Homo sapiens: one gene and its partners. The protein of the gene in region 1 purifies or fractionates together with the protein of each later gene. This does not show direct contact. Each region holds a gene or a part of one and is shown in the gene's direction. Other genes may lie near its edges.

Region 1 (3,500 bases):
AAGTGTGCCTTCCTGATTGTAACATAGCCACATTTAATCCTTGTTGAGTACTTACGATGGGCAAGGCATTATTCTACATCTGTCCATCCATATGTTAACTTACATAATCCTCCCAGCAACCCTGTGAGATAGGTACTGTCATTATCATTATCTCCATTTTACAGATGAAGAAACTGAGGCACAGAAAGGCTAAGCAGTTGAAATTTGTTTTATTCCTACTCCCACACACCTTGCTAAGAAGTGTCTTACATGTTAGTGAGTCAACCAGGTAATAAGTGGAGCAATCAAAGTGCATCTGCCCCTAGTGCCTGTGCCACTAACCACGGAGCAGCCTTCCATGCTGCCTTAAGCGAGCCACTCTGTATCTGAAGGAAACCGCATTAGAGCTGTCTGCATGGTTGCTTAACAAATGACTTTTTATATTCTCCAGATTGTACGAACAGATCTGAAAGAGTTAAGAGATTTCAATTTGGATGGTGCTCCTTATGGTTACACTCCTTTCTGTGACAGCCGAAGAGAAATGGACGGCTACAGGTTCTGGAAGTCAGGGTACTGGGCCAGTCATTTAGCCGGGCGAAAGTATCATATCAGGTACTGAAAAGAAGCACTCCTAACACTGTTACGGGGTTTTCCTTAAAATTGATTTTGTGTGGTTAAAATTGTGAATAGGTAATACATTGGTATGGTTGAAAAATAAAAATGATAAAAAATACACAGTGGCTGGGTGCAGTGGCTCATGCCTTAATCCCAGCACTTTGGGATGCCAAGGCAGGTGGATCACCTGAGGTCAGGATTTCAAGACCAGCCTGGCCAACATGGCGAAACCCCGTCTCTACTAAAAATACAAAAATTAGCTGGGCATGGTGGTGGGCGCCTGTAATCCCAGCTACTCGGGAGGCTAAGGCAGGAGAATTGCTTGAACCCAGGAGGCGGAGGTTGCAGTGAGCTGAGATCACGCCGCTGCACTCCAGCCTGGATGACAGAGTGAGATTCCATCTCAAAAAAAAAAAAAAATACAGTGTAAAAAAAACTTCCTAATCCTGTCTCTCTCTTTCCTACTCAGTTCCTGTTCTCACAGCAGATAACCTCCCAACTTATTGACTGTCTATCCTTCCAGATTTTCTTAATTCTTACAGAAACAGCTGTGAATGTGTATTCTTTTTTTTTTTACACAAAATATGCTACCTATTTATACATTTTGTAACTTGGCTTTTTTTTTTTTTTTTTTACTTAATGTCATATACATCTTCTCAGTGAATAGAGAGAGACCTGATTCCTTTTCATAGCTGCATATTATTCCAGTGTGTGAGTGTTATTTATAGTTTTCCCTGTGACCTACAATGTTGCAATGAATAATCTACTAAATAATTTTTCATATCTCATATATTTGTGAGATAAATTCCTAGACGTAGACCTTTTAGGTCGAACAGTGTGTGTGTTGTTACATTTCTAATGAGCACCCCATTCTCTTCTCTGCGAGAAGTGTGATTTGAAGATGTGCAGGGAAGAGGAACGTGTAGGAAGCGGCACATGCAGAGATCACTGCTGGGGTTTAGTGATGGTGGCTTCATTCTTTACATTCCTGGTCCAAAAGAACTGTAAGGACTGTAACACTCTGGGGTTTTCCCCCCCCTGTAACATTGAAGACATCATCAGGATATCATTGAATAATGGTTGTTTATCAGTTACTATGGCTTTTGTTACTGCCGCATATGCTAGAAATCTTTGGTCTGAGATTATTTCTTTCGGATGGCAAATACAGAACAGTAACAAAAGCATAGCACAGTATAGATTTTGCAGTGACTTTCTTAGAGATCTTTAAAGTAGCACACTTTAACTCCACTGTAGGGCTGTAGCATACCTTTTCAAAGAAAAGCCAGAATATTTGGCTAGTGGCCTGTTCCATTATTCATTGGGTTTAGTTTTCCTGTCGTAATCCATGGTTGGTTGTAACAAGCGGGTCTTCTTTATTCAGTGCACTATATGTTGTGGATCTGAAGAAGTTTAGGAAAATAGCTGCTGGTGACAGACTCAGGGGACAGTACCAAGGTCTGAGTCAGGACCCTAACAGCCTTTCAAATCTTGATCAAGTAAGTGTCCATTTTTTATGGTTAACTGTGAGTGACGGGTATACAGTGTTGCATCAGAAAATGAAGTATTACTTGTGTCTTCAGTCCTCTCCTCACAGGATGGCGTCTTGTTTTTTCATGGTGTGTGTGTGTGTGTGTGTGTGTGTGTGAGAGAGAGAGAGAGAGAGAGAGATTTTTATCTGCCCTCAAGACATATCAGCGTGAAAAATGTCATAGATTTGATGCTGGCTGGGGAGAGAGATGGAAGGAGAATGCTGCCTCTCTGAACCATTAGCATATCTTTGTATTTTGTACTCAAACTAATCTCATAGGTTTGTTTCTCTACCTACTAGGGTCAGTTTGTTTTTCTGCTGTAGGAACTAAATAGCTCAGGATTCGTAGTATAGAATCACAGTATAGTATCACAGCTTCCCCTTTTTCTATGTCAGAAACCATGATGTGTTTCAAGGCTAGCTAAATTACTGTTTGTTAATGTTAAGCATTTTTCAGAGGTGAGATTGTAGTTTAAGGGTTTTGGATACATATTTCACATATTTTAAGCATTTTATTTTGCTTAAGTCTACTTAAATGTTTTTAAACCTTTATTGTGATATGTAGCATCCATAAAGAAAAGTATACAAAAAACATACATACATATTCACATACATCCAGGAATTATTATGAAGCAAATACCCAGATACCACAACCTAGTTCAAGAACTAGAACATTATCAGCATCCCAGAAGCCATCCTTCCTCCCTAACAAAAGTGTCTAGCATCACGACTTTTATGGTAATCATTTTTGTTTCTTTATAGATTTACTGTTTAAGCATGTATCCATAAACACTAGTTTAATTTGCTCATTTTCTTCTCCTCTATCTCAATGGAATAATAAAAGGTAAACTTTTTTGTTTGTTTGTTTGTTTTGAGACAGAATCTCACTCTGTTTCCCAGGCTGGAGTGCAGTGGCATGCTCTGGGTTGCACTCACTGCAACCTCCACCTCCCGGGTTCAAGTGATCCTCCTGCCTCAGCCTCCTGAGTAACTAGGATTACAGGCACGCACCACCACTCCTGGCTAATTTTTGTATTTTCAGTAGAGACAGGGTTTCACCATGTTGGCCAGGCTGGTCTCAAACTCCTGACCTCAAGTGATCCACCCGCTTTGGCCTCCCAAAGTGCCGGGATTACAATCACGAGCCACAGTGCCCGGCTCTACTTACTTTAAAATTTGTGTGATACCTGGTATCTTCTAATTTATGGAGCTACTATGGATCTGATTCTGTTGTATTATTTCTGTTATTCTTTTGTTCATACTGTCTATCACATATTTGTTTATCTTCTGTAGTGTGTCAGGCGTTGTTTTTGCAGAATTATTTTGGGGAATAATTTGAGTTCAAAAATGGTATCACCCAACAGTATTTGTTTCTCTC
Region 2 (4,026 bases), on another chromosome or scaffold:
TATTTTGATGCTCAAACCATGTCAAGTTTGGTCAGTGGAAGTCCCTTCAATCTGGTTTCCATGTCCTTTGAACACGTCCCCACCATTCTTTGAGCACTGCCTTACTTTCAAGCACAAGATGTTCCAAGTTCATTCTGAACTTTCCCTTCCCCAGCTCTGGAATCTGCCATTTCTCCATGGAGCCTTGCTCCTTTCAGTGGAGCATGGTATTTAGGAACCAAGGGCTGACTGCCTAATGTGCTTTCCAAGTATAATTTCCTCAGTCCAAGCTTTTCAAATTGATCTGCCAAAGACCCATTGCCAAAGATCCATTGCCAGAATATAAGAGTGGAAGGAAATTCTTAATATTTTTTGAAAGTTACTATTATTTTCATTTTTCTCTTTGTAAAAAATTCATTTAATTCAATATAAAAAGACAAAAATCTTTGGCACATAAATCGCAACTCTCTGATGCAAATGTTTAAATAAAGCTGATACTCCAAGAAGACGCAACATATTCTCTTTATCCCACAGACATATAGGCCTATGGTTGCAAACTTTTATACACACACAGAGTCACAATTCCACTGGCACCCGTGATGTTCCACATCCAGATTTTCCAAATCACACATTCTCATCTTCACATAGCCTTGCCGGCAACCACACGGCATAGTACCACATTGTTACGTCAAGCACAGCCAGTCTACCACAGAGCCTGTCGTCCCATTGACCAAAGTCACAAAAATCACAGCCCCGGGTATTTACTGTGGTTTTCTCCAGTCAGATCCCTTCACTCACTACACACTGACTCACACTCAAATTACACACACGCGGAAACACAACCCGCCAGAGCCAGAGAGGTTCCGTCGGTCCCGCAACCCTCACAGTGCCACACACACGCGCTCACAAGGCAAATACAAATGGCCAGGCACTCATTCTTTACAATACACATATTAAGCGCCTATTATGTACTACACGCCGGGACTACCTCAAGAGGTGAAACAAACAAAATCCTGCCTGGCGGAGCTATCGCCCAGTCCCGCACGCACTCGGCCTCAGGGTCACACTCGGCGGTCCCACGCTCAAGTGGCCCGGCCAGTGGCCCAGAGGCGTCTGTTCTCCTCCTCAGCTTCCTGCGTGGGTTCCTGGTAAGTGAGTCGAACCCGCCGGATGCGCGCGCGCCTGCGCCTCCGCCCAAAAGGATCAGTTTCCGGCTGTGGACTACATTTCCCAGAAGCCCCTTGGGCAGTGTTGCCTGGACCCCAAGGGCCCTTTACATTGCGTTCTTAACGGTTCAGTCACCTTAACCGTTATTATTCACTTGCGGGCGAGAAGTCCGAGCTAGGTGAGGCGGAACGGGACTCTTACGAGTAGGACTGGGGATAGAACTGCCGCCCAAAGTGAGGCGCTCCAGGGCCCAGACCTGGCGTGTCGTGCCCGCAGGGAGCCTCAGGCCTGTGCGTGCTTGGGGAGCGGAGAAGGGAAATTGTGTGACAAAATGTGGCAGACGGTGTATGTGTGTGTGTGCGCGCGACGGGGCGCCTGTCAGGACCGGGTTGGGCGGGTGTGGGTGCGGGTGTGAGGCTGAGACAGGTGCCTGGCTCTCTGGTGTGTGTCACTGACCCTCTACCCTCCTCACGGCCTCGGTGTTTGCACACAGCAGTGTCCCCAAGAGGGAAGTCAAATATCGAGCTCTGGGATGAAGGTTCCCAGCAAGAAGGTACAGACCTGGGTTGGCGATTGGACTTTTGAATTAGAAGTGTCCCTAAAACAGACTCCTGGGACGACAGGTTGGAAGACTGCGCAGTTGGAGCCGCTGTGTGGGCAGCTGCATGTTTCAGAACCACTGCATTCCCATACCTTTGATCTAGAAACCTGGTGTGAGTTCAGAGACAGATCCCAGCCTCACTCTCACACAGCTGTTATGTGCGTGAGGTCAGCACAGATGTGGCGCTGGAGGGGATATTCTAGGTCGGTCTGTGCTCTTAAGAAAGGCCTGCTGTCTCATGATTATTTTTCTTCCCCCATTCTGCTATTCATCAAAACAGGGATCCTGAAAAGGAGGGAACAATTGTTGTAGCAGGTCTAAAAGTTCAGGTCCAGGTAAGTTTATATTTCCTTTTTATTCATAAAATGGAAATCACACATTCTAATCCTCACACAGCCTTGCCTGCACCCAGTCATACGGCGTGGTACCACACTGCTATGTCAAGCACAGCCACAATCTACCACAGAGCCTGTCACCTCATTGCTCACAGTCACAAAAATCACATCCCCAGGTACTTTCTGTAGCTTTCATTTGCATTTTTCCCTTTGAAGAAGTTCATTTGATTCAATCTAAAAAGACTAAATTATTTGTCACATAAATTGCAACTCTCTGGTCTATATCTTTAAGTAAATCTTTAAATAAATGCATAAAATGTTTTTGTTTTTAGGAAATGGAAACATTGCTTTGCTTTTCCTGAATTGTCCAGTGACCTATCCCAGGCCTTCCTTTCCAGTGAACAATGGACCATGCAGGTGGACCCTCCTCTTCACGGGCCTCCAAATGACTTTCTCATTTTTCAAATCATTCCTCTGCACTCACTTTCTATAATGGTAGAGAAATGCATATCCTGGAGTCTAAAGTTAAAACTTTGTTTTATTGAGATTAATGTTTAGGTAGAATCACATCATCCATCTTCTCCAATCTTCTCCAAAGACCTCAGTTTTAAAATATGACAGGATTAGAGATGACCTGACTAGTGTCAGTAAGCAAGTGATAATGGTCGCCTGCTTTTAAGGCTTTTAGAAGTGGGAATGTGATTGGAAGTCCAAGCATAGAAATCTGTGTGAACATGAGCAGGGATTTTTTTCCAAGGAATCCATGAGTTGAGATTTATTTTTATACAGAGTTAGTCATAAGAATAAAAAGTACATATGAGTAAAGTAATAGTCATAGTGATGAAGAATAATACGCAATTTTTTTTTCTTTTTTTGAGAAGGAGTCTCGCTGTGTCACCCAGGCTGGAGTGCAATGGCATGAACTCGGCTTACTGCAGCCTCTGCCTCCTGGGTTCAAGTGATTCTCCTGCCTCAGCCTCCCAGGTAGCTGGGATTACAGGCGCCTGCCACCATGCCTGGCTAATTTTTGTATTTTTAGTCGAGACAGGGTTTCACCACGTTGGCCACGCTGGTCTGGAACTCCTGACCTCAGGTGATTCACTTGCCTTGGCCTCCCAAAGTGCTGGGATTACAGGCATGAACCACCGCACCCAGCCGCAAATTTTAAATTTTATATGAATCTCACTAATATTAGGATTTAAAGACATTTAACAAGCATTATATCTAAATTAACATTTCAACTGATTATTTGCTGGAGAAGTAGAGGAGAACCAAACACTCTTCTGTCTGCTTTGTTCAAATTTTCTTATTCAGTCTGCAGACACTGTTCACCTGGCTTGTGTATTAAGAGAAGAATCTTAACAGTGAAAAGGTCTTGTTGAATTGAAGAAGAATGTTCAAGAACTGGCAGGCATTTATTTATAATGGTCATGCTGTTTTCCTATTGTTTGCATACATGTCAAACCAATTTGCTTCTGATGTGTTAAAACATTTTATTTTATAATTGGATATAGATCTATTGTATACTTCTGGTTATAGAATTAATATTCACCTTTTATAAATTATTTAGTTACTCATTATATTACATAAGGCACTTATAAAGAAGAAAGTTAAAATAGCCCCAGCATCACTATTAACACTTTGGGGAGCTATATTTTAGCAAGATTTTTTTTTTTTTTTGACAGAGTCTCGTTCTGTTGCCCAGGCTGGAGTGCAGTGATGTGATCTTGGCTTACTGCAACCTCCATCTCCCAGGTTCAAGAAATTCTCCTGCCTCAGCCTCCCGAGTAGCTGGGATTACAGGCGCCTGCTACCACGCCCAGCTAATTTTTTGTATTTTTAATAGAGATGGGGTTTCGCCATGTTGGCCAAGCTGGTCTCAAACTCCTGACCTCAGGTGATCCACCCACCTCGGCCTCCCAAAGTGCTGGGATTACAGGTGTG
Region 3 (3,500 bases), on another chromosome or scaffold:
TTTTGAGCTTGGTTTCAGTGTCTCTTTTATACTTGAACAGTGTCCTTAAATTAGATTCCATGATCAGTGTGAGTGCCTATGAAAAATGACTTGTAGGGCTCGTCCCTATAATCCCAGCTACTCAGTAGGCTGAGGTGGGAGGATCAGTTGAGACCTCCAGGAGTTTGAGACCAGCCTGAGCAACATAGTGAGATGCCATCTCTTAAAAAAAAGAGAAATGAAAAGTGACTTGTTAGGTAACAAATCTACAGGACTCTTATGAAAAGACCCAAACGAATTTTTCCAAAACCATTTTGTTTCAATGACCATCCATTTAAACTGCCAGTTAATTGAAGGATAATTTGCTATAACATACCTGCTGGACTCATAACTTATAGACAGTAAAGTGATGGTGATACTATCCTTTGTCATAGGCTGGTGTGCATTGTAGCCTCTCATGGTCACCACATGTACTGATTGTTCTTGGTTATTTATTTTTTGGGGACAGGTAGGCAGTGTTTTAAGATGTTGAATTGCAAGTATATTTTACCTCTCATACCTAAATCCATATAATAAAGGAGAAGAGAGAATGCATTTAGAGGATATTGGGTTTAGGTAAAATAGTGCTGCATTTCATAAGGTAGCTGTATTTCTGAAATACCTGGTCTGAAATAGGTCAGGTCCTCTTCATTCTGAGATAGATAGGAAGCAACACTAGATTTCAAATGATAAATATTGGATTACCTCCCCAGTTTGACTGTTATGTTGGTGTGTCATCGGTGGGGGAATGTCACTTACCTCTTTTTATTTTCATCATTTCTTTTTGTTCAGGTGAGCTATTATAGGGTATTTAATATGTATTGGGGTATTCAAACTAGTCATAGCGTAACTACAACAGTTAAGTTCTCTGCATTATTTTTAGTCTCCAAGTCCTCTTGTCTGCTGTTGATGATTTGCTAAATACACTTCTAGAGAGTGAAGATTCTTATCTTATGGGAGTTTATATTGGAAGTGTAATGCCGAACGACAGTGAATGGGAAAAGATGAGGCAGTCTCTTCCTATGCAGGTATTTTGGAAATTGAAGAGTACATATCTCATTCTGAAGTTTGGATTTCATGCAAGCTTGAATATTTTTATTTTGGGGAAGAAAAACATAAATAAAATGAGTATTTTGCTTTGCTTTGATGTCTTTGTATGCTCATATACTGGATGTTTGCTTTTTGCAAGACACCATTTGACAGTGGCAGTGGGCATGGTACAAAGACTTAGGACCTAGTTCTGTACTTAAGGAGTCTTAAAGAAATACACATGTTGATAATTTCCTGTAAAAGAAAACAAACTTCTAGGTTTCTGTGGTTTTGGTAATAAATATTCTCACAACTTCATTTTTGTTCAGTCTCAATTGCTTAGGTAATAAATAATTTTGTATATAACGTATTCTTTTCACAGTGGTTACATAGACCTCTTTTAGAGGGAAGATTGAGTTTGAATTATGAATGTTTCAAAACAGATTTTAAGGAACAGGACATAAAGACACTTCCCAGCCATTTGTGTACTTCAGCATTATTGAGCAAAATGGTCTTAATTGCACTGAGAAAGGAAACAGTCTTAGAAAATAATGAGCTTGAGAAAATAAGTAAGTATATATGAGTATTTACATATAACATAATGCATGAATGAATATAATTTTGAAATAATCTTGATTATACTGCAGTTTAAATCTTTAATTCAAGAATCTTCAGCTTTCTTTTTCCTATTTTAATGATGAGAACCTTGAAGTTACTTAAGTGGTGAATGTGAAATTGCAAATTAGATACGAATATATTGGAATCTTGCTATAATCTTGTTAACTGTGGATCGTAATTTGGTGTTAGCTACTCAGGCTGTCATGACATCAATGTAAACAGATCCTGTGGCACATACCCTAAAGAAAATGGGTGAGGCTTTGGTGTTTTATCAAGGATTCAGAATTTTCTGTTGATTAAAAAAAAATTGATACCTGATAATTTTACATATTTATGGGGTACATGTGATATTTTGATATATACATAGAATGTGTAGTGATCAAATCAGGCTAAGCAGGATATCCATCACCTCAAACATTTATCATTTCTTTGTGTTGAGAACATTTCAAATCTTCTAGTTATTTTGCAATATAAATCATTGTTAACTATGGTCATCCTACTGTGTTATTGAATACTAGGTCATATATCTTCTCTCTCACTGTATTTTGGTACCCATTCACCGACCTCTCTTCATCCCCTGCTCTCCCTGACCCTTCTCAGGGTAACCATCAGTCTACTATACTATTCTATCTTCATGAGATCCACTTTTTTAGCTCCCATATACAAATTAGAACATGTGATGTTTGTCTTTCCGTGCATGGTTTATTTCATTTAGCATGATGATGTCCAGTTTCATCCATGTTGCTGCAAATGACAGTATTTCATTCCTTTTTTTTTTTTTTTTTTTTTTGAGACAGAGTCTCGCTCTGTTGCCCAGGCTTGAGTGCAGTGGCGCAATCTCGGCTCACCACAACCTCTGCTTCCCAGGTTCAAGTGATTCTCCTGCCTCAACCTCCCAAGTAGATGGGACTACAGGCGCACACCACCATGCCCAGCTAATTTTTGTATTTTTGGTAGAGACGGGGTTTCACTATGTTGGCCAGGCTGGTCTTGAACTCCTGACCTCGTGATCCGCCCGTCTCAGCCTCCCAAAGTGCTGGGATTATAGAAGTGAGCTACCGTGCCTGGCCTCATTCTTTTTTTAATGGCTGAATAGTATTCCATTGTGCATATGTACCACATTTTATATATCCATTCATTCACTGATGGACACTTAGGTTGATTTCATATCTCAGCTATTGTGAATAGTGCTGCAGCAAATATAGGGGTGCAGATATACCTTTGATATACTGGTTTTCTAAATATTCAATGGGATTGCTGGATTGTGTGATAGTTCTATTTTTAGTTTTTTGAAATACTTCCATATCGTTTTCCAAAATGGCTGTACTAATTTGCATTCCTACCAATAGTATATAAGTTCCTATTTCTCTGCATTCTTGCCAGCATTTGTTATTTTTTGTCTTTGTTTTTTTAGAGATGGGGTGTTACTATGTTGCCCAGACAGGTCTTTATCCTGGGCTCAAGCAATCCTCTTGCCTCAGCCTCCCAAAGTGCTGCGATTACAAGCAGTGCCACCATTCCCAGCTTATTTCTTACCTTTTTGACAAGAGGCATTCTAACTGGGGTTTTGATTTGCATTTCCCTGATGATTACTAATATTGAGCATGGGATTTTTTTTTCCTTTCTTGCCGTTGAGTTGTTTGAGTTCCTTATATATTCCTTATGTTAGCCCCTTGTTGGATGAATAGTTTGCAAATATTTTCTCCCATTCTACAGATTGTCTCTTCACTTTGTTGATTGTTTCTTTTGCTGTGCAGAAAGCTTTTAGTTTAACATAGTCCTATTTGCCTGTTTTTGTTGCCTTCGCTTTTGAAGTCTTAGCCATAAAAATATTT
Region 4 (3,500 bases), on another chromosome or scaffold:
CTTGTTATCTCTAGGGTGTAGGGAGATTGACTGAAGAAAGGCCAAGGGAACTGCCTGTATGGTGGAAATAATTCAGTATCCTCATTGGGTTACAAAGGTGTATGCATTTGTCAAAATCAGTAAATTCTACACTTAAAACCTGTGAATTTTATTTATAAATTACACCTCAATTAAAGGAGCAAAACTGTGTCTTTTTAAAAAAAGATAAAGTTAAGTGTCTTTTAAAATTATAATCCTTTGCCCCCCACAACTGTGCCATTTTGCAAATCTATTATTCCAGGCAGTTTTTTCCCCAATTATTTGGATTACTAAAATTACTTTCTTTTATTTTAAATCAAGTCTTAGTAATTATTAAATTCAGTGATGGATTAATGAATAGAGTTAGGCAGTTAATTTTTTAAATAGTCAAATTTGGTCAGAAATGAGAAATGGTTGATTTAAAATACAACCTAAATCTTGTGCTTTAAGTTGATGTTACATAGAGGATAACTTAGATGTTTTTACACAAAGTATAGTTCTTAATTAGTAGTATATGATCCATGTGAGTCTGATACAAGTCTAAATCATGAGCATCCAAGAAAAATATATCTAGCTCATAGAAAGTTTGAAGTTGTAAAAGGTATCTTACATTTTATTAATGAAGACATTTGGTGATTTTGTTACACTTTTTAATATATCAAAAATAATTGCTTGAAAGTTTCTTTTAAAAGTATTTTGTATCTCCACATACTCCATTTAATTATGTTTATGTGTATGTGAGTCACATTTACAAATTGGCAAGCCAACTAGAACATATTGTTAAATGTAAGTCATCAAGCAGTAACCCAGCAAAGGTCTGGGGGAATAGCTTGACTTCATGTAAGTAGTTTCAGCATTCAATGCATCAACATAGATCAGTATTATTTTTCCATTAAATTTGAGGTGTTTGATTATTATTTTGTGTTAAAAAAGATAACTACAATGTAGCGTAGGTGGTATTGTTGTTTTAAAAACACGATTTTCTGTACTTGAGTAAATTATTCGTACCTCTCGTTTTCAAAAGTTACTGTTGTCTCACTTTGGAAAGATTTTTTTAACTAATCTGTAGTTTATTATATTTGGCATTGTTTGGGGTTTTTTTTTTGCTTGGATGGTAGCATACAATACTAGTTTTAAAACGTACAAATGCAGTCTTAGAAGAAGGGTGCACTGATTAACTGTGCAAATTAATGATGGTTTGGAAATTATAACAGATTGTATCAACTCTTTCAGACCTCTTTAGGTAGCAACTAAGAACAGTTCACTGGGTAAGTGTTCTTTAATAGTTATTTACATATATTTTTTCAGAGAGGCAGAATAGTGCAGTAGTGAAGAACATGGACTTAGAGCCAGACTGTTTAAATAGCTTGTGACCTTGGCAAGTTGCTTAACCTCAGTACTTTTTTTTCTTACTTGTAAAATGGTGATGATAATAATATTTACAGTACTTTATTTGGTTGTTGTAACCAATGAGTTAAAACATGTAAAGTGCTTAAGACAGCACCTGACATATAGGTAAGTATAAGCTATGGTCATTATTACTATTATTATCATCATCATTATTATCAAGATTACCTTTATCCTTAGAAAATGTAACTCAGTCTGGGGGCTGGGCACGGTGGCTCACACCTATAATCCTAGCACTTTGGGAGACCAAGGCAGGCAGATCACTTGAGGCCAGGAGTTTAAGATCAGCCTGGCCAACATGACAAAACCCTGTCTCTACTAAAAATACAAATATTAGCCAGGTGGGCATGATGGCGTGGCCTGTAATCCCAGCTACTTACTTGGGAGGCTGAGGCACGAGAGTCACTTGAACCCGGGAGTTGGAGGTTGCAGTAAGAGAGATTGTGCCATTGCACTGCAGCCTGGGCAAGAGAGTGAGACTCTGTCTCAAAAAAAGAAAAGATGTAACTAAATCTGGGCTTTTATTGTGGGAGTAATTTTCAGTGCTAATTATAAGTACTCATATTATTATTTTGTATAGTCTCTTAAAATAGGTAGTTTCAGAAAAATGTTAAATGCTGTAATTCATAAGGTAGTGATTGTAACAGTCTTGAAAAAGAACAGCTGGTAAGTTTGCGTGTCCTATTTGATAACTATAATAGTTATTATTGTATTCTTGCAGTTGTGTTCCAGGGCATGAGCTAATATGGTACATGTGTACGAAAGATGGCACATGGAAAAGGTTGCTTTGTTGTGGAATAGCTATTACCACTCCCCTTTTCTGTTATAGCAGTGGGTGCTCCCAAAGCATCTTACTTGGGTTTTCCTTCCTATTCCAGAGGAACATGGGACAAGTTACTTCTTCTCCTATGTCCGTAGTCTGCCTTGACTCTGCTCTCTTTCCCTTTCCTGCTGCATCAGTCCTTGATCTCAGGGTTCCCTGACAGACCATTTTAAGTGCATCTGGAATTGTTTAGTTGTTTACATGTACAGAATTAGATTTTAAATAAGTTAATAGAGAACACATTAACATCTTTTTTCCCTGTATTACCAAAGTTAATTTTTTTCCTTATTTCTACTTTTCAGTTATTTAACATCTGTATTTTAAAATTAAGATTTGCGTTGATTTAACCTGCTTGATCTTCAGGTTAATAATCATATATTATGGCTCTTAGTTTGTGAAAATAAAGTTAATTGTTGATTCCAGACACAAAGAATTATCCTTTAATTACAGCCCTTTTACTCTTTGCTTACATGCCCACACCCCCGACCATTCCCCAGATGTCTTATAGATCCATGCTTCTTGTATTTCTATTAAGTTCAGGAACATACTGCATACCAGTACTTTCTGGATGACTTGACTCTTTCCAGGCAATCCTCTCTTCAGGCCATTTGATGTACCATTTCCAGTGGTACTTTCTTTCTTTATTAAATCTGGACTATTTGCCATTGGATTATAGGTTTTCCATCACATGCAAAACTTAAATGAGCAAGATTTTTGGTAAACCATCCTCTGGACACCGGAGGGTTCTTTCTATAGAAGATAGAAACAAACAATGTTTGCTACTGATTGTATAATTTGTATAATTGCTTAATGTAACATTACTTTTCCCATTTAAACTTCTAGCTTGGAGATTTCCTTGATTAAGAAGAATGAAGGACTGACCTGGCCAGAGCTAGTAATTGGAGATAAACAAGGGGAACTTATAAGAGATTCAGCCCAGTGTGCTGCAATAGCTGAACGTTTGATGCATTTGACCTCTGAAGAACTGGTAAGTAGTTGGAATAGTAGTGTGACTTTCCAAGGGTCCAAAAATATGTTATGTGAAGATTATGCCATGCTTTTCAAACAATATTTTGCTTTTCCTAATATAAAAGATACATATCAGATACTACTGATCTGAGTGATGTTTGAATATGGCCTAAGTTCTAATATTTATTTCTTACACTATGTAAATACATACATATATGTGTGGTCATACTGTATAGAGGGTTTGCCTGTATCTGTTTATGTGTGCGTATGTATTGTGCGCTCT
Region 5 (3,500 bases), on another chromosome or scaffold:
CTTGCCCAGAGCTTCTCACGCTTTAATGTACAGATCAGTAACCTGGGATTCTTTAAAATGCAGATTCTTATTCAGTAGGTCTGGGGGGGTTGCTGCTGCTGCTTATTCACAGATGACAGTTTGGGTAGAAAAGGGCAAGATTGGTGTTTCTCAAACTTGAGTGTGCATCAGCATCACTAGAGAACCTGTTAAAATGGTGATCGCTGGGCCCACACCCAGAGCTTCTGATTCAGAAGCATTGCTAATATTAATAACTTCCCAGGCAATGCTAATGCTACCAGTCTCCACCATGAGAAATGCTGGGTAGTGCATAGGGCTGGGGATCTTGGAGGGGAGTTGGGGGAGATAAGGGGCAGTGGTGGAGCATGTGGGTGGGGCTGCACTTTATTGGGGCTTAGCTGCTGCTTGGAGGAGTTGGCCACCATTCAGACCATCACAGTCTGGCCTCTGTCGGCAGGGCTGGTGGGGCTCTAGCCTGCTGGAGGACTTGGGATGACTCTGTCTCCAGGGGGCTCATTCTTCTCCCCTCTGCTCCCTTGTAGTGCTCACCGGACAACCGAGGTTGCCCACAGGGATTTTGCCAACAGCTTCTCAATCTTGAGATACAACTCCACCATCCAGGAAAGCCTCCACAGGTATGGTGGGGCAGGCAGGCTGCCTGTTTGTGAGCAGGGGAAGGAGTGGGTAGGAGAGGGTCTTTGAGTCAGGGAGCCCCCTTCACTGGCTTTTCTAGTATCCAGCCTCCAGGAGTCCACCATGAGTGTTCAGGGGCATCTTGGAAATAGTCCTTATTCACCAAACTGCCTTCTGACTTAAGAATTCTTATCTGAGGCTCGGTGCTGAGGACAACTGGAGACCAGGGGTGCCCCTGAGAGTTTATCAGGTCGTCAGAGGCAATTCATGAACCTTGGGACCACCAGTCGGCCAGGTGTTTGGACTGAGAGCTGCTGCAGGGAGTGGACCTGGATTGGTGGGGGAGAAGCACCACTGACACCCTGGCATGACACTTTGCACATGCCGCTCCTCTACTCGGCCCATTCTCTGCTCTCTCCACCAGTGCAGTTAGGGGACAGGGTAGACAGGCAGCAGTAGGGGACCGCCAGGTGCAGGCATCAGGGACAGGGAGGGCCACGTTGGAAGCATCAGAGGTTTGGGGTCTCTGCCAGCTAGCATTGTTTGCCCTACGGAGGGGAGAGAAGAAGCCAGGCTCCAAGAGAAGTAATGGTGAGGGAAGGGATGTGAATTTGCTGCAGCTGGATGCCAGCTCTGTGCTGCGTGGTTTCTGCATCTGCGTTGAGGAACTGTGTCAGAGGAGCACCAGACCACCTGTTTAGTTGTGAAAAGATGCTGCGACAATGAAGTCCTAAGTTCGAAGAACATGGATCTGGGCCAATGTCTGCAATGTGCCACAAGGAAACTAGTTGAGGGGATGAGAGTGGAGATGGTTTGCACTGAGCCACTCCGATTCTGGACAAAGCACTGGAAGGGACAATGTCACATGGGGAAAGGGGAAGCTCAGAATCTCCTGCTTCCTGTACAAAGGGTAGCTTCCTTGGAAACAGGATAGGAACTGAGCAGGAGTCAATCAGGAAGGCTTCCTGGAGGAGGTAGCTAATGTGCCCTTTTCCCACTTTCTGTGTCTCCCCCTGCAGGTCTGAATGCCCTTCCCAGCGGTATATCTCTCTCCAGTGTTCCCGTAAGATGTTCTTCTTCTTGGATTGTGGCCAGTGTCGTGTGGGAGTAAAGGGCAGAGGGGCAGCACTCCTCCAAGGGAGGTGTTTGGCACAGGGGTTCAAGTCAGGAACAGTGTCTTAGCCAGCAGGCCTGCTTCAGGGCTGGAGTCCCTGTAAGGCACCGGTACACCCAGGGTAACATTTCCCCTTCTCCTGACTCTGGTAGGGGCTCAGCCCAGCAACCTTTTATTCCAAGGAAGCTGTCTGAGTCTTCTGTGCATCAGGGGAAGTGTATTCTTCCTATGTTTAGAAACAATAGAGACCCTCATTATAATGCTTGTCAATTCAGGGTCACATTAGAACTGGTCTGCATTCCTGTGCACCTAATGGCAGTCCTGGGACTTACCATCATGACCCCAATGCCCAACACAGTGCCCAAAGCTTGGGACACTCCAAAAGGATTTGTCAAGTCAATGAAAGAATGAGTGAAGGAGAAGAAAGAGGAACCTGCCTGGGGTCAAACTTTCCGCGGAATGATCCCAGAAAGCCACCCCACCATGTGGTGGCTCTGCTCTCACAGAAACTGCTGTGTGTAGCAGATAAGGGAGCAAAGCCCGTCCATGGAAGGGTGGGTGCCCTTCAGGATGGGGCTGCCTGAGCCTGTCCTGGCCCTGGGAGCACAGCAGAGGCATCCTGATCAGGAGCTCGGAAAGAACCCTGGGAGAAACAGGGTTCACAGTACGTCTACTCCTTCCCTCCAGACTGCGGACTGAGGGCCATGACCGGGCGGATCGTGGGAGGGGCGCTGGCCTCGGATAGCAAGTGGCCTTGGCAAGTGAGTCTGCACTTCGGCACCACCCACATCTGTGGAGGCACGCTCATTGACGCCCAGTGGGTGCTCACTGCCGCCCACTGCTTCTTCGTGTAAGTGCCTGAGAGGCAGGTGATTTGACACTGCCCAGGGTCGGGAACCACCAGGAAGGGCTGGCTGCAGACTGACTTCTTCGTGGAGGAGGATTCTGGGTGTGAGTCCAGCCCCCATGGGCCAGTTGGCACTGGTGTAGCTTGGGTGTTCACCTGGTCCTGAGAGTGTGGGTCGGGGGTGTTTGTTCCGAGCTAGGCCCAAGGATGAGAAAGTCCCATTGACGGCCCCAAGGGGGAGAGAGGCAGGCAGGAAGAGGGACTGGGAGCCTGCCCCTGAAGAACAGGGTGAAATGAAAAAGGCGTTGGGTTTGTTGCTGCTTCCTGCAAATGGAACTCATAGCAGAGGAGCCCCTAGTTATCCCAGAAATTGAGGGTTAGGGATTGCAGGCAGGGCACTGTATCAGCTGCTAACGGTCACCAGCTGGTCTATTGTCTTTGGGGGCCCACAGCCCAGGCTGGTGGGCAGGAAAGAGCTCTGGGACCAGGCCTCAGGGGCACTGGCCTCCCTAGTAATGAGTTCAGTGTGTTACTTTGTCCTGTCTGAATTTGCTGAGGGTAATAATACTGAGATCTTATCAGTACAAGCCCTTGACCCTGTCTGGTGAGTGAATCTGTGTCCCCATCCCTAGTCCCAGCACCTTCTGCAGCCCTGTGACTTGTCAGCATCTGTCAGTTCATATCGAGGCCCCAGAGTTTCAGCATGGCAGAAGTCAAAGTCTCCTATTTGATCCTTGGTGACTTGCAGAGGAGATAGTGGGGGGGGAGTGCCACACAGAGGTCTTACTCATCCTTCCCTCTTTATTACTGTAAGGTGCAGAGCTGCAAGCTCATAATTTTTGAGGGGCTGTGGGGGATTGCTTTGGACTCCAGGGATAAGATAGAGGGTTCCCTCCAGAGGTCATT
Region 6 (3,500 bases), on another chromosome or scaffold:
CAAACAAGGTAAATGTAAATTAATAAACTTTTGGAAACTAGAAATATCAGCACTATTGTAGGTTAAAATTTTAGTTTTATCTGAGTGGAACAGACCTTGCTGGAAATAGTAACTATAGCACTCTTGAAGAGAAATATGTCCAGACTTCCCCTCGGACCAGATTTTTCTCTCATGATTAGCTCTATTTTTCCAACAAGAAGGAATAAAGTGGAGTTATACTTTATCTGCACATGTGCTCCTCATAATAAAGTACAGAAATAACCAAAATGGACTATCCTATTTGTCTCATAAGATACTTACTCATTTTCATATAGACTTAAATAATTTCTGTTTTCTGGCTGGGTGTGGAAACTCACACCTATAAATCCTACTACTTTGGGAGGCCGAGGTGGGAGGATTGCTTGAGGCCAGGTGTTCAAGACCAGCCTGGGCAACAGAGCAGGAACCTATCTCTAGAAAAATTTTAAAAATTAGCCAGGCGTGTTAGCCAGTGCATGTAGTCCCAGCTCCTTGGGAGGCTGAGGCAGGAGAATCGCTTGAGCCCATGGTTTTGAGGCTGCAGTGAGCTGTGATTGTGCCACTGCACTCCAGCCTGGTTGACAGAGTGAGACCCTGTCTTAAAAAAAAAAAATTGTGTTTTCTCATAATTGGAAATGTGTTTGCATTAGTGTACCCTTAAGTCAGAGGTGTACATACCAATTTTGCCCAAATCAAAAATAAATGAGGCATAAATGAAGGAACACTAATGAATTGTTGGTGACGTCCACTGTTTGCTGTTGTTAAAATGGTGTGATTTTGTTATTTACAATCTCATTCTTTCCTTAATTAATGTCCTTTCGTAGTTCTCAGAGTAAAATAGTATTTTCTGAGTGTAGTCAAATGTGTTATCCAGAAATGACATTTGGAAGATTCCCAGGAGTTCTTGCATATTGCCTGTTTTGTATTTGTCTCATTGAAACATATTTTTGAAAGGAGCATATTTTGCTTGTGATGACTTACATTTTCATTTGCCTGTCTCAGCTTCCAAATTTATTTTGGCTTTGTTCCCTAGATTACCGAATTATACAAACAATATGATTTTGGAAAAGTTGTTCGGCTGTTACGGACGTTTTATACCAGAGAGCTCTCTAACTTTTATTTCAGTATAATCAAAGATAGGTATGTATGACTAAATATTAAAATGCTTAACAATGGCCAGGTGTGGTGACTCACGCCTGTAATCCCAGCACTTTGGGAGGCCGAGGCGGGTGGATGACATGAGGCCAGGAGTTCGAGACCAGTATGGCAAAATACAAAAATTAGCCGGGCATGGTGGCACATGCCTGTAATCCGAGTCACTCAGGAGACTGAGGCACGAGAATCGCTTGAACTTGGGAGGCGGAGGTTGCAATGAGCAGAGATTGTGCTGCTGCACTCCAGCCTGGGTGACAGAGCAAGATCTCGTCTCAAAAAATAACAACAACAAAACCTCAACAAGTATTTTTTGAGTGTCTACTTGTGTTTGGCAACCGTCAGGGATACAGTGATGAGCAAGATGGGCAGTGTTGTGCAGTTATTAAGATTGGGTTCCGGGCCAGGCGTGGTGCCTCACGCCTGTAATCCCAGCACTTTGGGAGGCCGAGGCGGGCGGATCACGAGGTCAGGAGATCGAGACCATCCTGGCTAACACAGTGAAACCCCGTCTCTACTAAAAATACAAAAAATTAGCTGGGCGTGGTGGCGGGTGCCTGTAGTTCCAGCTACTTGGGAGGCTGAGGCAGGAGAATGGCGTGAACCCGGGAGGCAGAGCTTGCAGTGAGCCGAGATCGTGACACTGCACTTCAGCCTGGGCGACAGAGCAAGACTCCGTCTCAAAAAAAAAAAAAAAAAAAGATTGGGTTCCGGAGTCAAGTCTGAGTATAAAGGTTTGACCTCCCGCTTACTAGCTTTCTGATTTGGGGCAACTTATTCTGTAATCTGTTTCTTCATCTGTAAAATGGGTATAATAATACTTACCTCGTGATTGAGAAGGAAAAGCAATAATGTGCTTAAAGCTGTGCTTGATAAAGTGTTCAAAAAATCATCACTACTAATATCAGACGATGAACATAATGCTTGTTCTCAGGAGTTCTCAAATCCTGAGGGGAAGAGAGAGATATATATGTGCAATTATATGGTAACAGTGTATAATATTAGCAGTATCCTTGTAGAAGAGGCCTTGATGCCAAGTCTTCATCTGTTGCTCCAGTGTGCAGGTGACGGTCCTACCTTCATGGTAATGAGTCCAGTCTGAGGCGTTATCCTCAGCCTGTCAGCACCCCAAGGACCTTGCACATAGGGATTATAACTCCTACTCCTTCCCTTAAAACACTAATAACATTGGAGTGGGTGGGAGCCACATGTTAAATACCATCAACTAACTTATTCATAGTCCTTTAATACAGTAGTCTAGACTCTAGTTGTCATCCACCTGAGAAACAGAATGAGATAGCGTAGCCATGAGTGCTTTCAAGGAGGTGGGTACACCTGGACGGAGTAAAATTGTAGGAGAGTGTATTGTATTCTTTAAGTAGAAGATGATTAGAGCCATAGGATTAGCCACTAGGAATAAACTCAACCTGAGGCAGGTCCCATCTAGGTGACCATAATGTATAAAGTATTGTCAACTGCTGAATAAGTTGTTCTTGTTCAGGCTCTATTGTGAAAAGGAAAATGACCCCAAACGACGCTCTTGTCAGACTGCATTAGTTGAAATTTTGGATGTAATAGTTCGTTCTTTTGCTCCCATTCTTCCTCACCTGGCTGAAGAGGTGTTCCAGCACATACCTTATATTAAAGGTAAGGAATACTTCATTTATTCTCTTAATGAGAAATATCCCTGATCAAGGTGCAACTTCTACTTCTATCTGCTTCATAAAAGGGGCACTTATCCATTTACAGTGACTGCTGTGTGACACAGTGTGTCTTGGTCATGTATTTGTTTCTGCACCTATTTGTAGAGGAGTAGGGTAAATTTCAGAATTCTGTGCTTTCTGAAATGTATTAGCAGCTTGACAGTGTCGAGAAATCACCTTTTTTCTTAAATACCTTTATAACTGTTCTGAAATGGCTGGCATGGTGGCTCACACCTGTAATCCCAGCACTTTGGGAGGCCGAGGTGGGCAGATCACTTGAGGTCAGGAGTTCAAAATTAGCCAGGCCAACATGGCGAAACCCCATCTCTACTAAAAATATAAAAATTAGTGGGGCATGGTGGTGGCGGGTGCCTGTAGTCCCAGCTACTTGGGAGGCTAAGGCAGGAGAATTGCTTGAACTCGGGAGGTGGAAGTTGCAGTGAGCCAAGATCATGCCACTGTACTTCAGCCTGGGTGACAGAGCAAGACTGTCAAAAAAAATGTTCTGAAATATATTTTAGGTTGTATTAAAACAAAATATAGTGCTTTTAGTGAGTTTTATGTTAGTTGTTTTCTTCTGATTGTATTAAGTTTATAAAAATTAGAAACTATAGAAGTGTAGGAAGA
Region 7 (3,500 bases), on another chromosome or scaffold:
AACATACACGCCTGATTTCTATCTTCCCTGCAGCCTTGGGGAGCAGTACTACAAAGATGCCATGGAGCAGTGCCACAATTACAATGCTCGCCTCTGTGCTGAGCGCAGCGTGCGCCTGCCTTTCTTGGACTCACAGACCGGAGTAGCCCAGAGCAATTGTTACATCTGGATGGAAAAGCGACACCGGGGTCCAGGTGAGGGTCCAGACTTGGGAGAAGGGGACTCAGGAGCATAAGGAGGAAGAAGCCTCCTCATCTTAGGTGATGAGACAGTTGATAGGGTTTTCCCTACTGCCTTCCACCTATGGATGAATATGGTCTTCCTGTGATTAGAAACCCAGGGAGGATGAAGCAGATGTTTGATACCAGCATCTTTGTTTTCTGCCCTGCTGAGGCCATTGTGTGTCTGGAGAACTATGTGTTAGCCAAGGCCCTGAAGCTTATATATCTATTTTTCTTTTCCACAGACTATTCCACCTAACCCCCTAGGCCCTCACTGTCAGAATTTCTCCCTTGCTCTAGAACTCAAAGGGGGGCCTACTTAATTAGAAAGTGTTTGGTATTACTTTCTAATACTGGGTTAGGGCCTGACTTCTATCTTTCTTCCTGCCACAGGATTGGCCTCCGGACAGCTGTACTCCTACCCTGCCCGGCGCTGGCGGAAAAAGCGGCGAGCCCATCCCCCTGAGGATCCACGACTTTCCTTCCCATCTATTAAGCCAGGTAAGGCACATACTTCCTGAGCAGAGGCGTGGCCTGCTGCATGGTGAGAGCCTGCTAATCACTGTGATATACCAGGCCCAGTACTAGATCCCAAATATACTCAAATGAATATGATGTGATTCTTTCCTTTAAGGACCTCAGTCTAGAAGGGGAGACAGGTAAACAGATAAGTTATGGTGCCAAGTGAACTAGGGTGTCTTAATTCCTGGGCGTGCAGAGAACAAAAGATAGTGACAGACCTTTGGTAAGCCCCAGCATTATGTGGACTCAGAGCAGTCTGCTTTCAGCCCTTTTGAGCCTTGCTTTATCCTGACCTTGCTTGCAGACACAGACCAGACCCTGAAGAAGGAGGGGCTGATCTCTCAGGATGGCAGTAGTTTAGAGGCTCTGTTGCGCACTGACCCCCTGGAGAAGCGAGGTGCCCCGGATCCCCGAGTTGATGATGACAGCCTGGGCGAGTTTCCTGTGACCAACAGTCGAGCGCGAAAGGTACAGGATTATCCCTGTGGCTAAGGGAGCTTTGATGGAAATCAGCCTCCTCTTCACTGGGGGCCACCTAGTTTCTAGAACTGAAACAGAAGCTGGAGTCCAGGAAGCAGGCCCCTGCAGTTCTGTTCTTACTTCAGTCCCTGATTATTGTCAGGTACTGACTGGCTTCTCTGTTGCTTCTAACTATAGACTCTCATTCATTCACTTTTATCACAGAAGGTTATTATTATACACATATATAATTTTCATTAAAAAAATTAAAATAGGCCAGATGCAGTGGCTCATGCCTGTAATCCCAGCACTTTGGGAGGCCAAGGCAGGAGGATTGCTCAAGTCCAGGAGTTCGAGACCAGCCTGGGCAACAAAGTGAGACCCCATCTCTACAAAAAAATAATAATTAAAAAAAAATAGCCAGGCATAGCAGCATGCGCCTGTTGTCCCAGCTACTAGGGAAGCTGAGGTGGGAGAATCACTTGAGCCTATGAGTTCGAGACTGCAATGAGTCATGATCATGCCACTGCACTCCAGCCTGGGCAACAAAAAAAAAAAATTAAAACCAGAAGGTGCAAGAATAGTACAATGAAATACCACATACTCTTTACCTAGATTTATCAATTCCACATTTTGCCACATTTGCCTTATCTGTCTTTGCTAAACTATTTGAGAGGAAACTTCAAAAACTTTTCAGTCTAGGCAACATAGCAGGACCTTGTCTCTACTAAAAATAAAAATAAAAAATTAGCTGGGCATGGTGGCACACGCCTGCAGTCCCAGCTACTCAGGAGGCTGAGGTGGGAGGATTGCTTGAGCCCAGGAGATTGAAGCTGTAGCTCTGCTTATGCCTCTGCACTCCAGCCTGGGTAACAGAGGGAGACCCTGTCTGGGAAGGGAGGGAAACAAACTTTTATCCCTAAGTGCTTTACTCTTTTATCACAAAAGTTTGTGTCACAGTTTTTTGGTCCCTGAGGTTACACAGTGAAGCACACTTAGTCTCTGCCAACAGAGAAGATAAGAATACATGTAAAAATAACAGCTATAAATATGCCAGCATTGGGTTAAGTGCCTTTTCATGCCCTTTCTCCTTTAGTCTGTACAACCTTATGGGGTAGGTCCTGTGTTCCCCATTTCACACAGAGGCTGAAACAAAGCAGTTTAAAAACTTCCCATGGGTCGGGCACGGTAGCTCACGCCTGTAATCCCAGCACTTTGGGAGGCCGAGGCAGGCGGATCTTGAGGTCAGGAGATCGAGACCATCCTGGCTAACATGGTGAAACCCCGTCTCTACTAAAAATACAAAAAAAATTAGCCAGGCGTGGTGGTGGGCACCTGCAGTCCCAGCTACTCAGGCGCAAACCCGGGAGGCAGAGCTTGCAGTGAGCCGAGATTGCGCCACTGCACTCCAGCCTAGGTGACAGAACGAGACTCCATCTCAAAAAAAAAAAAAAAACTTCCCATGGCCGGCCACGGTGGCTGACGCCTGTAATCCCAGCACTTTGGGAGGCCGAGGCAGTTGGATCACCTGAGGTCGGGAGTTCGAGACCAGCCTGACCAAGATGAAGAAACCCCGTCTCTACTAAAAATCCAAAATTAATCAGGTGTGGTGGCGCATGCCTGTAATTCCACCTACTTGGGAGGCTGAGGCAGGAGGATCGCTTGAACCCAGGAGACGGAGGTTGCGGTAAGCCAGTATTGCGCCATTGCACTCCAGCCTGGGCAACAAGAGCGAAACTCTGTCTCAAAAAAAAAAAAAAAAAAAAAAAGCTTCCCACAAGGTCACACAAATAAGCAACAACATTTTAATTTAAACTAGGAGGCGAGTGTCAGGACAGAACCACCAATAATGTGCTCCCAGGGTGGCCAATCAGAGGCAGGAGAGGGCATGGCTGCTTGTGGCATCAGGGCAACCTTTTGGAAGCATGCTATTTGATTTGGCCATGTGGCATGGTGGGGAAAGCATTTCAGGCTAAGGAAATAACGTGAAGCACAGGGGAAAGATATCCCAAAGTATGGAAGGGAGCAGGAGCAGGATTATAGCATGCTTGAAAGGCGTTGGTGAGGAATGAGGCTGGTGTGGGTGGGACCACGTCACAGAGGAGGTTCTGGGTGGCCTTGGCCAGTCTCATCATAGGGGAGCTTTTGGATGCACATATTTCTACCCATGCTAACCCTCCTGTCCACTCAGCGGATCCTAGAACCAGATGACTTCCTGGATGACCTCGATGATGAAGACTATGAAGAAGATACTCCCAAGCGTCGGGGAAAGGGGAAATCCAAGGTGAGGGGCCAGCG

The links.
Region 2: the proteins of UGGT1 (region 1) and ZNF546 purify together in Homo sapiens (co-immunoprecipitation; one large-scale study listed by IntAct). This does not show direct contact.
Region 3: the proteins of UGGT1 (region 1) and LTN1 purify together in Homo sapiens (affinity purification with mass spectrometry; one large-scale study listed by BioGRID and IntAct). This does not show direct contact.
Region 4: the proteins of UGGT1 (region 1) and NUDCD1 purify together in Homo sapiens (co-immunoprecipitation; one large-scale study listed by IntAct). This does not show direct contact.
Region 5: the proteins of UGGT1 (region 1) and TMPRSS13 purify together in Homo sapiens (co-immunoprecipitation; one large-scale study listed by IntAct). This does not show direct contact.
Region 6: the proteins of UGGT1 (region 1) and IARS2 purify together in Homo sapiens (affinity purification with mass spectrometry; one large-scale study listed by BioGRID and IntAct). This does not show direct contact.
Region 7: the proteins of UGGT1 (region 1) and DPF2 purify together in Homo sapiens (affinity purification with mass spectrometry; one large-scale study listed by BioGRID and IntAct). This does not show direct contact.

What each region holds. Positions count from the first base shown.
Region 1 is NC_000002.12:128,181,700-128,185,199, forward strand, and holds part of UGGT1 (UDP-glucose:glycoprotein glucosyltransferase 1 precursor), read left to right. Parts: intron 1-430; coding exon 431-591; intron 592-1,975; coding exon 1,976-2,090; intron 2,091-3,500. UniProt on the Homo sapiens protein: Recognizes glycoproteins with minor folding defects. Reglucosylates single N-glycans near the misfolded part of the protein, thus providing quality control for protein folding in the endoplasmic reticulum.
Region 2 is NC_000019.10:39,995,834-39,999,859, forward strand, and holds the start of ZNF546 (zinc finger protein 546), read left to right. Parts: upstream 1-1,226; 5' UTR 1,227-1,324; intron 1,325-2,027; 5' UTR 2,028-2,082; intron 2,083-2,414; 5' UTR 2,415-2,493; coding exon 2,494-2,577; intron 2,578-4,026. UniProt on the Homo sapiens protein: May be involved in transcriptional regulation.
Region 3 is NC_000021.9:28,954,878-28,958,377, reverse strand, and holds part of LTN1 (E3 ubiquitin-protein ligase listerin), read left to right. Parts: intron 1-901; coding exon 902-1,046; intron 1,047-1,429; coding exon 1,430-1,616; intron 1,617-3,500.
Region 4 is NC_000008.11:109,275,088-109,278,587, reverse strand, and holds part of NUDCD1 (nudC domain-containing protein 1), read left to right. Parts: intron 1-3,091; coding exon 3,092-3,236; intron 3,237-3,500.
Region 5 is NC_000011.10:117,908,903-117,912,402, reverse strand, and holds part of TMPRSS13 (transmembrane protease serine 13), read left to right. Parts: intron 1-542; coding exon 543-635; intron 636-1,652; coding exon 1,653-1,696; intron 1,697-2,434; coding exon 2,435-2,597; intron 2,598-3,500. UniProt on the Homo sapiens protein: Serine protease. Cleaves the proform of PRSS8/prostasin to form the active protein. Cleaves the proform of HGF to form the active protein which promotes MAPK signaling.
Region 6 is NC_000001.11:220,139,132-220,142,631, forward strand, and holds part of IARS2 (isoleucine--tRNA ligase, mitochondrial precursor), read left to right. Parts: coding exon 1-8; intron 9-1,051; coding exon 1,052-1,158; intron 1,159-2,671; coding exon 2,672-2,817; intron 2,818-3,500.
Region 7 is NC_000011.10:65,340,352-65,343,851, forward strand, and holds part of DPF2 (zinc finger protein ubi-d4), read left to right. Parts: intron 1-33; coding exon 34-194; intron 195-614; coding exon 615-722; intron 723-1,047; coding exon 1,048-1,211; intron 1,212-3,393; coding exon 3,394-3,486; intron 3,487-3,500. UniProt on the Homo sapiens protein: Plays an active role in transcriptional regulation by binding modified histones H3 and H4. Is a negative regulator of myeloid differentiation of hematopoietic progenitor cells. Might also have a role in the development and maturation of lymphoid cells.